2 separate regions of the Homo sapiens genome follow, and region 2 is linked to region 1. The links come from fine-mapping of genetic effects on gene expression. Tissue or cell type: whole blood. Region 1 holds a variant in brackets; the other region holds the start of a gene. All regions are shown on one strand. Distances are between the middles of the regions. Region 1 overlaps ARHGAP45 (Rho GTPase activating protein 45). Region 2 holds the start of AZU1 (azurocidin 1).

Region 1 (4,380 bases):
GCCCTGTTCTGCTCCTGATTTTTATCCTCACCTCCATATAGAGAGGCTCACCCGATATCAGTCAGCATGAAGCAGCCTGAACCCCTTTTTTCGGCTGTGCAGGGCTCAGCTGAGGAGATTGAGTAGGTTATTTCATGGACGTCTTGGGAGTGGCTGAGCTGTTGCTGTTACGAACACCATTGCTATGACAAGCTTGTGCCCCTGTCTCAAGGATGCCTGAGGGATCAGTGCCCAAAATAGAACTGCTGGGTCAAGGGGCGTGCGTGTATGAGCTACCCTCCCAGGCCACAGCCCTGCTTTTCCTCTTCTGTGAACCCTCAGTTCTTAACCTTTGCTTAGTTCTTATCCTTTGCTTACTTTGTACTGGACAGTGGCTTATCATTGATTTGTCAGAGCTTTTTACATATTAGAGAACTTAGGCCTTAATCATGTGAGTTTTAGACTCCCCCCATTCCCCTCCCACAATTTACTGTTTGACTTTTGATTTTTACCTGTGGCCTATTTTGCCAGGTAGAAACCTGTGATTGTTGGCAGTAGTCTTTTTTTTTTTTTTTTTTTTTTTTTTTTTTGAGACAAGAGCCTCACTCTGTTGCCCAGGCTGCAGTGCAGTGGATCGATCTCAGCTCACTGCAACCTCCATCTCCTGGGCTCAAGCGATTCTTCTGCCTCAGCCTCCCAAGTAGCTGGGATTACAGGCGCCAGCCAACATGCCTGGCTAATTTTTGTATTTTTAGTAGAGATGGGGTTTCACCACCTTGGCCAGGCTGGTCTCGAACTCCTGACCTCAGGTAATCTGCCCACCTTGTCCTTCCAAAGTGCTGGAATTATAGGCATAAGACACCGTGCTTGGCTAATTTTTATATCTTTGGTAGAGATGGGGTTTCATCATGTTGGCCAGGCTGGTCTCGAGTAGCTAGGACCACAGGTGTGCGCCACCACGTCTGGCTAAATTTTTTAATTTTTTTGTAGAGATGGGGTCTCACTATGTTGACCAGGCTGGTCTCAAACTCCTGGCCTCAAGTGATCCTCCTGCCTCGGCCTCCCAAAGCACTGGGAGTACAGGTGTGACCCATGGCGCCTGGCGGTCTCCTAGTAATTGGATGAGTCCGTTTGTTTGTGTGCGAATCTGATGGTGCAGGTTGTGAGGTGTGGCCCCCGAGCCCACAGGTTTTTGACTAAGTGCTCTTCCTGCCAACCTGTGGGCGCCTGGCTTCCTGCCTGGGCGGCTTCTCTGTTCTCGTCTGTGAGGAGGGAAGTGAAAGCAAAAGAGCCCGGAGACGCTCCCGTGGGGGCTGGTGTGCGTGTCTGCAGAGGCTGCCGTGTGAGCCTCTGTGCAGAGCTTGGCTGCACCTCAGCTTCCCGGGCTGCAGAGTGGGCACACAGGACACCCATTTCTCCGAGTGTCCTGTTACGGGTGCCTCCTCCCGTTCTTTTTTTTTTTTTTTTTTTTGAGCTGGAATCTCTGTTGCCCAGGCTGGAGTGCAGTGGTGCATGCAATCTTGGCTCACTGCAACCTTCGCCTCCTGGGTTCAAGCTGTTCGCGATTCTAGTGCCTCAGCCTCCCGAGTAGCTGGGATTACAAGCGTGCACCACAATGCCCGGCTAATTGTTTTAAATTTTGGGTAGATACGGGGTTTCACTATGTTGGCCAGGCTGGTCTCAAACTCCTGACCTCAAGTGATCCACCTGCCTCGGCCTCCCAAAGTGCTGGGATTACAGACGTGAGCCACCGCGCCCGGCCACTCCTCCTGTTTTTCCGCTGCCGATTGTTGTGCAGGGTCCTCTGCATGCCCAGCTGGGCCATGGGGCCTTGCTGAGAGAGATGGGGGTGGGGAGGAAAGGAGGAGCTGGGGAGACTGAGTCCCATCCGAGGATAGGGTTGGAACTGGCCTCCTGGCTCCCACACCCACAGCAAGAGGCGGAGTCCAACCTGCGCAAGGCCAAGCAGGGTTACGTGCAGCGCTGCGAGGACCACGACAAGGCTCGCTTCCTCGTGGCCAAGGCGGAGGAGGAGCAGGCTGGCAGCGCGCCGGGAGCAGGCAGCACGGCCACCAAGACCCTGGACAAGCGGCGGCGGCTGGAGGAGGAGGCCAAGAACAAGGTGAGGGCGGGTGGAGGCAGGGCTGGAGGTCCCTGGAGGAGGAGATCCAATGCTTGGTGTGACATTTACTACCTCCAGACCTTTGTTTTTGTTTTTTTGTTTTTTTGTTTGTTTTTGAGACGGAGTCTTGCTCTGTCGCCCAGGCTGGAGTGCAGTGGCACAGTCTCGGCTCACTGCAAGCTCCGCCTCCCGGGTTCACGCCATTCTCCTGCCTCAGCCTCCCGAGTAGCTGGGACTACAGGCGCCCGCCAC[C/T]ACGCCTGGCTAATTTTTTGTATTTTTAGTAGAGACGGGGTTTCACTGTGTTAGCCAGGATGGTCTCGATCTCCTGACCTCGTGATCCGTCCACCTCGGCCTCCCAAAGTGCTGGGATTATAGGCATGAGCCACTGCGCCCGGCCAATTTGTTTTTTGGAGACAGAGTCTCATTCTGTTGCCCAGGCTGGAGTGCAGTGGTGAGATCTCACTGCAACCTCCGCCTCCCAGGTTCACACAGTTCTCTGCCTCAGCCACCCTGCCACCAAGCCCAGCTAATTTTTTTGTATTTTTAGTAGACACAGAGTTTCACCATCTTGGCCAGGTTGGTCTCAAACTCCTGACCTCATGATCCACCCACTTCGGCCTCCCAAAGTGCTGGGATTACAGGCATGAGCCACCGCGCCCGGCCCCGATTTTTAAATTATTATTATTTTTGAGACAGTGTCTTGTTCTGTCACCCAGGCTGGAGTGCAGTGACGTGATCATGGCTCACTGCAGCCTCTACCTCCTGGGCTCAAGCAATCTTCTCGCCTCAGCCTCTAGAGTAGCTGGGACCACAGGCGTGTGCCGCCACACCCAGCTAATTTAAAAAAATTCTTGGCCGGGCGCAGTGGCTCACGCCTGTAATCCCAGCACTTTGGGAGGCCGAGGCAGGTGGATCACAAGGTCAGGAGATCAAGACCATCCTGGCTAACAGGGTGAAACCCCGTCTCTACTAAAAATACAAAAAATTAGCTGGGCGTAGTGGTGGGCGCCTGTAGTCCCAGCTACTCGGGAGGCTGAGGCAGGAAAATGGCATGAACCCGGGAGGTGGAGCTTGCAGTGAGCCGAGATCGCGCCACTGCACTCCAGCCTGGGCGACAGAACGAGACTCTGTCTCAAAAAAAAAAAAAAATTCTTTATAAAGATGGGGGTCTCAGGCTGAGTGTGGTGGCTCACACCTGTAATCCCAGCCCTTTGGGAGGCTGAGACGGGCAGATCATATGAGGCCAGGAGTTCGAAACCAGCCTGGGCAACATGGTGAAACCCCTGTATCTCTACTAAAATTACAAAAAATTAACCGGGTATGGTGGGTGGGGGGCACCTGTAATCCGTTACTTGGGAGGCTGAGGCAGAATTGCTTGAACCCGGTAGGTGGAGGTTGCAGTGAGCTGAGATCGTACCACTGCACTCCAGCCTGGCCTACAGAGCAAGACTCCATCTCAAAAAAAAAAAAAAAAAGATGGGGAGGGTCTCACCATGTTGCTCAGGCTGGTCTCGAACTCCTGGCCTCAAGCAAGTCTCCCACTGTGGCCTCCCGAGGCGCTGGGATGACAGGCGTCAGCCCCGCCTCCCTGAGGTTTCTGTCTGAGTCCTGCACCCCGGGCTGAGGCCTCTCTCTGTGCGCCCCGCCCCCACCGCAGGCGGAGGAAGCTATGGCCACCTACCGCACCTGCGTGGCCGACGCGAAGACGCAGAAGCAGGAGCTGGAGGATACCAAGGTGACGGCGCTGCGGCAGATCCAGGAGGTCATCCGGCAGAGCGACCAAACCATCAAGTCGGTGCGTGGGGTGCTCCGGCCGCCCGGGCGGGGATGGTGGACCGGGCGGCCTCCTCCTGACCCCTCCGCTCTCCGGTGCCGCCCGCAGGCCACGATCTCCTACTACCAGATGATGCATATGCAGACGGCGCCGCTGCCCGTGCACTTCCAGATGCTGTGTGAGAGCAGCAAGCTGTATGACCCAGGCCAGCAGTACGCCTCCCACGTGCGCCAGCTGCAGCGGGACCAGGAGCCCGATGTGCACTACGACTTTGAGCCCCACGTCTCCGCCAACGCCTGGTACCGCCACCCAGCTGCCCTGTCCCCGGCGCACAAGGCCCTGCCTGGGAGCCGGGCTTCCCTCTGTCGGGGGCATGAAGATGAAGCTGTCTTGCCCCCCATCACCTCCCCTCCTTTTCCCGGTTTCTTCCACTAGGTCCCCCGTCATGCGTGCCCGGAAGAGCAGCTTCAACGTGAGTGATGTGGCGCGGCCGGAGGCTGCCGGG
Region 2 (4,380 bases), 250 kb before region 1:
ATCTCGGCTCACTGCAAGCTCCGCCTCCTGGGTTCACGCCATTCTCCTGCCTCAGCCTCCTGAGTAGCTGGGACTACAGGCGCCCACCACCACGCCCGGCTAATTTTTTGTATCTTTAGTAGAGATGGGGTTTCACCGTGTTAGCCAGGAAGGTCTTGATCTCCTGACCTCATGATCCGCCCGCCTCGGCCTCCCAAAGTGCTGAGATTACAGGTGTGAGCCACCGCTCCCGGCCTGGAGACCAGATTTGAGCCCTGGGACCCTACATTCCCGATGGGCAGCGGACCTCAAGGCACACCGGCCCCGCCTCCCTGGACTCTCCCCGTATCCGCCCCTTGGAGGGGCAAACTGCCCTCAGAGGGCTCCCACAGGCCCAGACACAAACTGGTGTCCCCAAGGGTGTGGGGGACACGGTAAGCTCCAGACCTCAGTTTCACCTTGGAAATGAGCCCCTTTGTAAAAAATGGAGGTGAGTTTGGACGCAGTAGCTCACACCTGTGCTCCCAGCACTTTGGGAGGCCGAGGCAGGTGGATTGCTTGAGCTTAGGAGTTTCAAACCAGCCCGAGCAACATAGTGAGACTCCACCTCTACAAAAAAATACAAAAATTAGCCGGGCATGGTGGCATGTGCCTATGGTCCCAGCTACCTGGGAGGCTGAGGCAGGAGGATTGCTGGAACCCGGGAATCGGAGGCTGCAGCGAGCTGAGATCGTGCCACTGCACTCCACCCTGGGCAACATAGTGAGATCCCATCTCTACAAAATATACAAAAATTAGCCGGGCACGGTGGCGGGTGCCTGTGGTCCCAGCTACTCGGGAGGCTGAGGCAGGAGGATCAGTTGAACCCAGGAGATTGAGGCTGCAGTGAGCTGAGATGGTGCCGCTGCCCTCCAGCCTGGGCAACAGCGAGACCTCAACTCTGAAAAAAACAAAAGAAGGAGATGAAATTTACATAACTTAAAATTAGCCATTTTGAACGGTACAGTGAAGTGGTTTTCGGTGCATTCACCGACTTGTGCAACCATCACTGCTGTCCAGTCCCAGAACATTCCATCACCCCAAAGAAGGAAGCCCCATCTCCATCCATCAGCCATCACCCCCTGCCCTCCCCCGGCCCCTGGCAACCACAGATCCACTTCCTGCCTCTGCAGATTTGCTTGTTCTGGACATTTCGTCTATTTATTTTTATATAGTTTTTAATTTGTTTTTATTTATTTTTTTTGAGACGGAGTCTCTCTGTGTCACCCAGGCTGGAGTGCAGTGGCGCAATCTCGGCTCACTGCAACCTCCACCTCCCAGGTTCAAGCGATTATCCTGTCTCAGCTTCCCAAGTAGCTGGGACTATAGGCGCCCGCCACCACGCCCAGCTAATTTCTTTTTTTTTTTTGAAATGGAGTTTTGCTCTTGTCGCCCAGGCTGGAGTGCAATGGTGCGATCTCGGCTCGCTGCAACCTCCGCCTCCCAGGTTCAAGTGATTCTCCTGCCTCAGCCTCCTGAGTAGCTGGGATTACAGGCATGTGCCACCACGCCCAGTTAATTTTGTATTTTTAGTAGAGATGGGGTTTCTCCATGTTGGTCAGGCTGGTCTTGAACGCCCAACCTCAGGTGATCTGCCTGCCTCGGCCTCCCAGAGTGCTAGGATTACAGGTGTGAGCCACCGCACCCAGCTTGTCAATTATATCTCAATAAAGCTGTTGAAAAAGTTTAAAAAAATCACCCAATCGGGCACAGTGTTTCACACCTGTAATCCCAGCATTTTGGGAGGCCGAGGTGGGTGGATCACCTGAGGTCGGGAGTTTGAGACCAGCCTGGCCAATATAGTGAAACCCCATCTCTACTAAAAATACAAAAAATTAGCCAGGCGTGGTGGTGGACAACTGTAATCCTAGCTACTCAGGAGGCTGAGACAGGAGAATCACTTGAGCCTGGGAGGCGGAGGTTGCAGTGAGTCGAGATCACACCATTGCACTCCAGCCTGGGCAACAAGAGCGAAACTCCGTCTCAAAATAATAATAATAATAATAATAATAATAATCACCCATACAGACGCGCAGGACTCAACGCAGGACTGCCAGCTCCACTGCCCTGAGCCCCCCGGTGCCAGGCCCAGCGGGCAGTGCTGGAGCCCCAGTGGCTTGGGATGGGGAGACTGGGACTCTGAGCTGGCAATGTTCCTGGGTGCTGGCTGCATGCCCGCCATGTGCTGGGCTCCGGGATCCACTGGTTCCTGACACCCTCACCTGCCCCTGGGGGTGTGGCCATCTTCTAGAGAGGGAAACTGAGGATCAGTGCAGAATGTAGGGGGAGCCCAGGCTGGCCCAGGGAGCAGTTGGCGGTGGAGGCCTTGGGCAATTTCCCGTGTTCCCACTGAGTGGGGCTGTCCCTGGGCCTGGGCGGGGACGCCACCAACTGCCAAGGCCTGTGTATAAGGGCAGCCGCCGCCTTAGCCACAGACCTGCCCCGCCATGACCCGGCTGACAGTCCTGGCCCTGCTGGCTGGTCTGCTGGCGTCCTCGAGGGCCGGTGAGTGCCTCTCTGTGCCGGTGGTCCCCCATCTGTGCTAGGGCCCGGCTGCCAGGGCAGAACTCAGACTTAAAGCACAGAGAAGGCAAGCGGCTTGGCCTGGGTCACACAGCCAGCCCGGCCTGGACGATCCCGCGAAAGGCGTGAGGGCGGACGGTGTGCGGGACTCAGGGGCCCCCTGTCCTCTTAGGGAGTGGGACGATGGGGGAGGGTGGGTCCCCCCGCAGCCCCACTGGGTGGATAGAGCTGAGGCTGCAGCTTCACACGCCCTCCCGGCCACTGTGTGGATTCTTGGGGATCTCAGAGCTGTCTCCCCCCGACCCAGGCTCCAGCCCCCTTTTGGACATCGTTGGCGGCCGGAAGGCGAGGCCCCGCCAGTTCCCGTTCCTGGCCTCCATTCAGAATCAAGGCAGGCACTTCTGCGGGGGTGCCCTGATCCATGCCCGCTTCGTGATGACCGCGGCCAGCTGCTTCCAAAGCCAGTGAGGGGTCCTGGGGAGGGGGCCTAGGGGGCATTGGGGCTCAGAGAAGGGGCTTGGGGGGCTTAGGCATTCAGTGGGGGTGCTTGGTAGGTGAGGAGGGGAGGGGATTGCAAAAGGAGGGGCTCAGGGAAAGGAGGGGGCTTGGAGAGGGAAATGGGGACTGAGTTGAGGAGGGACCCAAGGATATTGGGGGGCTCAGATGGAGGAGGCCCAGAGAAGGGAAGGGGGTCAGATGGAGGAGGCCCAGAGAAAGGAAGAGGCTCAGATGGAGGAGGTGCAGTGAAGGAAAGGGGGTCAGATGGGGGAGGCCCAGAGAAGGGAAGGGGCTCAGATGGAGGAGGGGGCCCAGAGAAAGGAAGGGGCTCAGATGGAGGAGGTGCAGAGAAGGGAAGGGGGTCAGATGGGGGAGGCCCAGAGAAGGGAAGGGGCTCAGATGGAGGAGGTGCAGAGAAGGGAAGGGGCTCAGATGGAGGAGGTGCAGAGAAGAGAAGGGCCTCAGATGGAGGAGGTGCAGAGAAGGGAAGGGCCTCAGATGGAGGAGGTGCGGAGAAGGGAAGGGGGTCAGATGGAGGAGGTGCAGAGAAGGGAAGGGGGTCAGATGGGGGAGGCCCAGGGAAGGGAAGGGGCTCAGATGGAGGAGGGGCAGAGAAGGGAAGGGGGTCAGATGGGGGAGGCCCAGGGAAGGGAAGGGGCTCAGATGGGGGAGGCGCAGAGAAGGGAAGGGGGTCAGATGGAGGAGGTGCAGAGAAGGGAAGGGGGTCAGATGGGGGAGGCCCAGATAAGGGAATGGGGTCAGATGGGGGAGGTGCAGAGAAGGGAAGGGGGTCAGATGGGGGAGGCCCAGATAAGGGAAGGGGCTCAGATGGAGGAGGTGCAGAGAAGGGGAGGGGGTCAGATGGAGGAGGCTCAGAGAAGGGAAGGGACTCAGATGGAGGAGGGGGCGCAGAGAAGAGAAGGGGCTCAGATGGAGGAGGAGGCGCAGAGAAGGGAAGGGGCTCAAGATGGGAAGGGGGCCCTGGAAAGTCTCGGCTCTGCTTCTGTAAAAGCGGGGGAGTTTTCAGGGTGAAGGATTGCAGTCTGCAGGCTGGGATCCCCCCTAATTTGCAAGCCGGCTTGCTCTGTGCCCAGGCCCCAGCCTGGTGTCCTCCCTCTGCCCTTTCCTCCGCTACTCTCAGGAACCCCGGGGTTAGCACCGTGGTGCTGGGTGCCTATGACCTGAGGCGGCGGGAGAGGCAGTCCCGCCAGACGTTTTCCATCAGCAGCATGAGCGAGAATGGCTACGACCCCCAGCAGAACCTGAACGACCTGATGCTGCTTCAGGTGAGAGGATGGTGCCACCTGTGATCCCAGCACCTCGGGAGGCCGACGTTAGCCA

What was found. PIP is the estimated chance that this variant, and not a neighbour inherited with it, causes the effect. A credible set is the group of variants that fine-mapping cannot tell apart.
Region 2: AZU1 starts here. The variant in region 1 is the best candidate, but not a certain one, in a credible set for the expression of AZU1 in whole blood (TOPMed, PIP 0.71).

Annotation. Positions count from the first base shown.
Region 1 is chr19:1,075,945-1,080,324 of GRCh38, forward strand. It overlaps ARHGAP45 (Rho GTPase activating protein 45), which reads left to right. Exons shown (of 23, transcript NM_012292.5): 11 at 1,913-2,101; 12 at 3,759-3,896; 13 at 3,984-4,174; 14 at 4,311-4,380. Among named protein-coding and RNA genes, the nearest start is that of ARHGAP45, 11 kb to the left of the region's middle. RefSeq lists an enhancer at 1,192-1,331 and a silencer at 1,502-1,591. The variant C/T (reference allele first, on the strand shown) is at 2,354.
Region 2 is chr19:825,382-829,761 of GRCh38, forward strand. AZU1 (azurocidin 1) reads left to right here and starts at 2,456. Exons shown (of 5, transcript NM_001700.5): 1 at 2,456-2,523; 2 at 2,849-3,005; 3 at 4,181-4,325. The coding sequence starts at 2,466.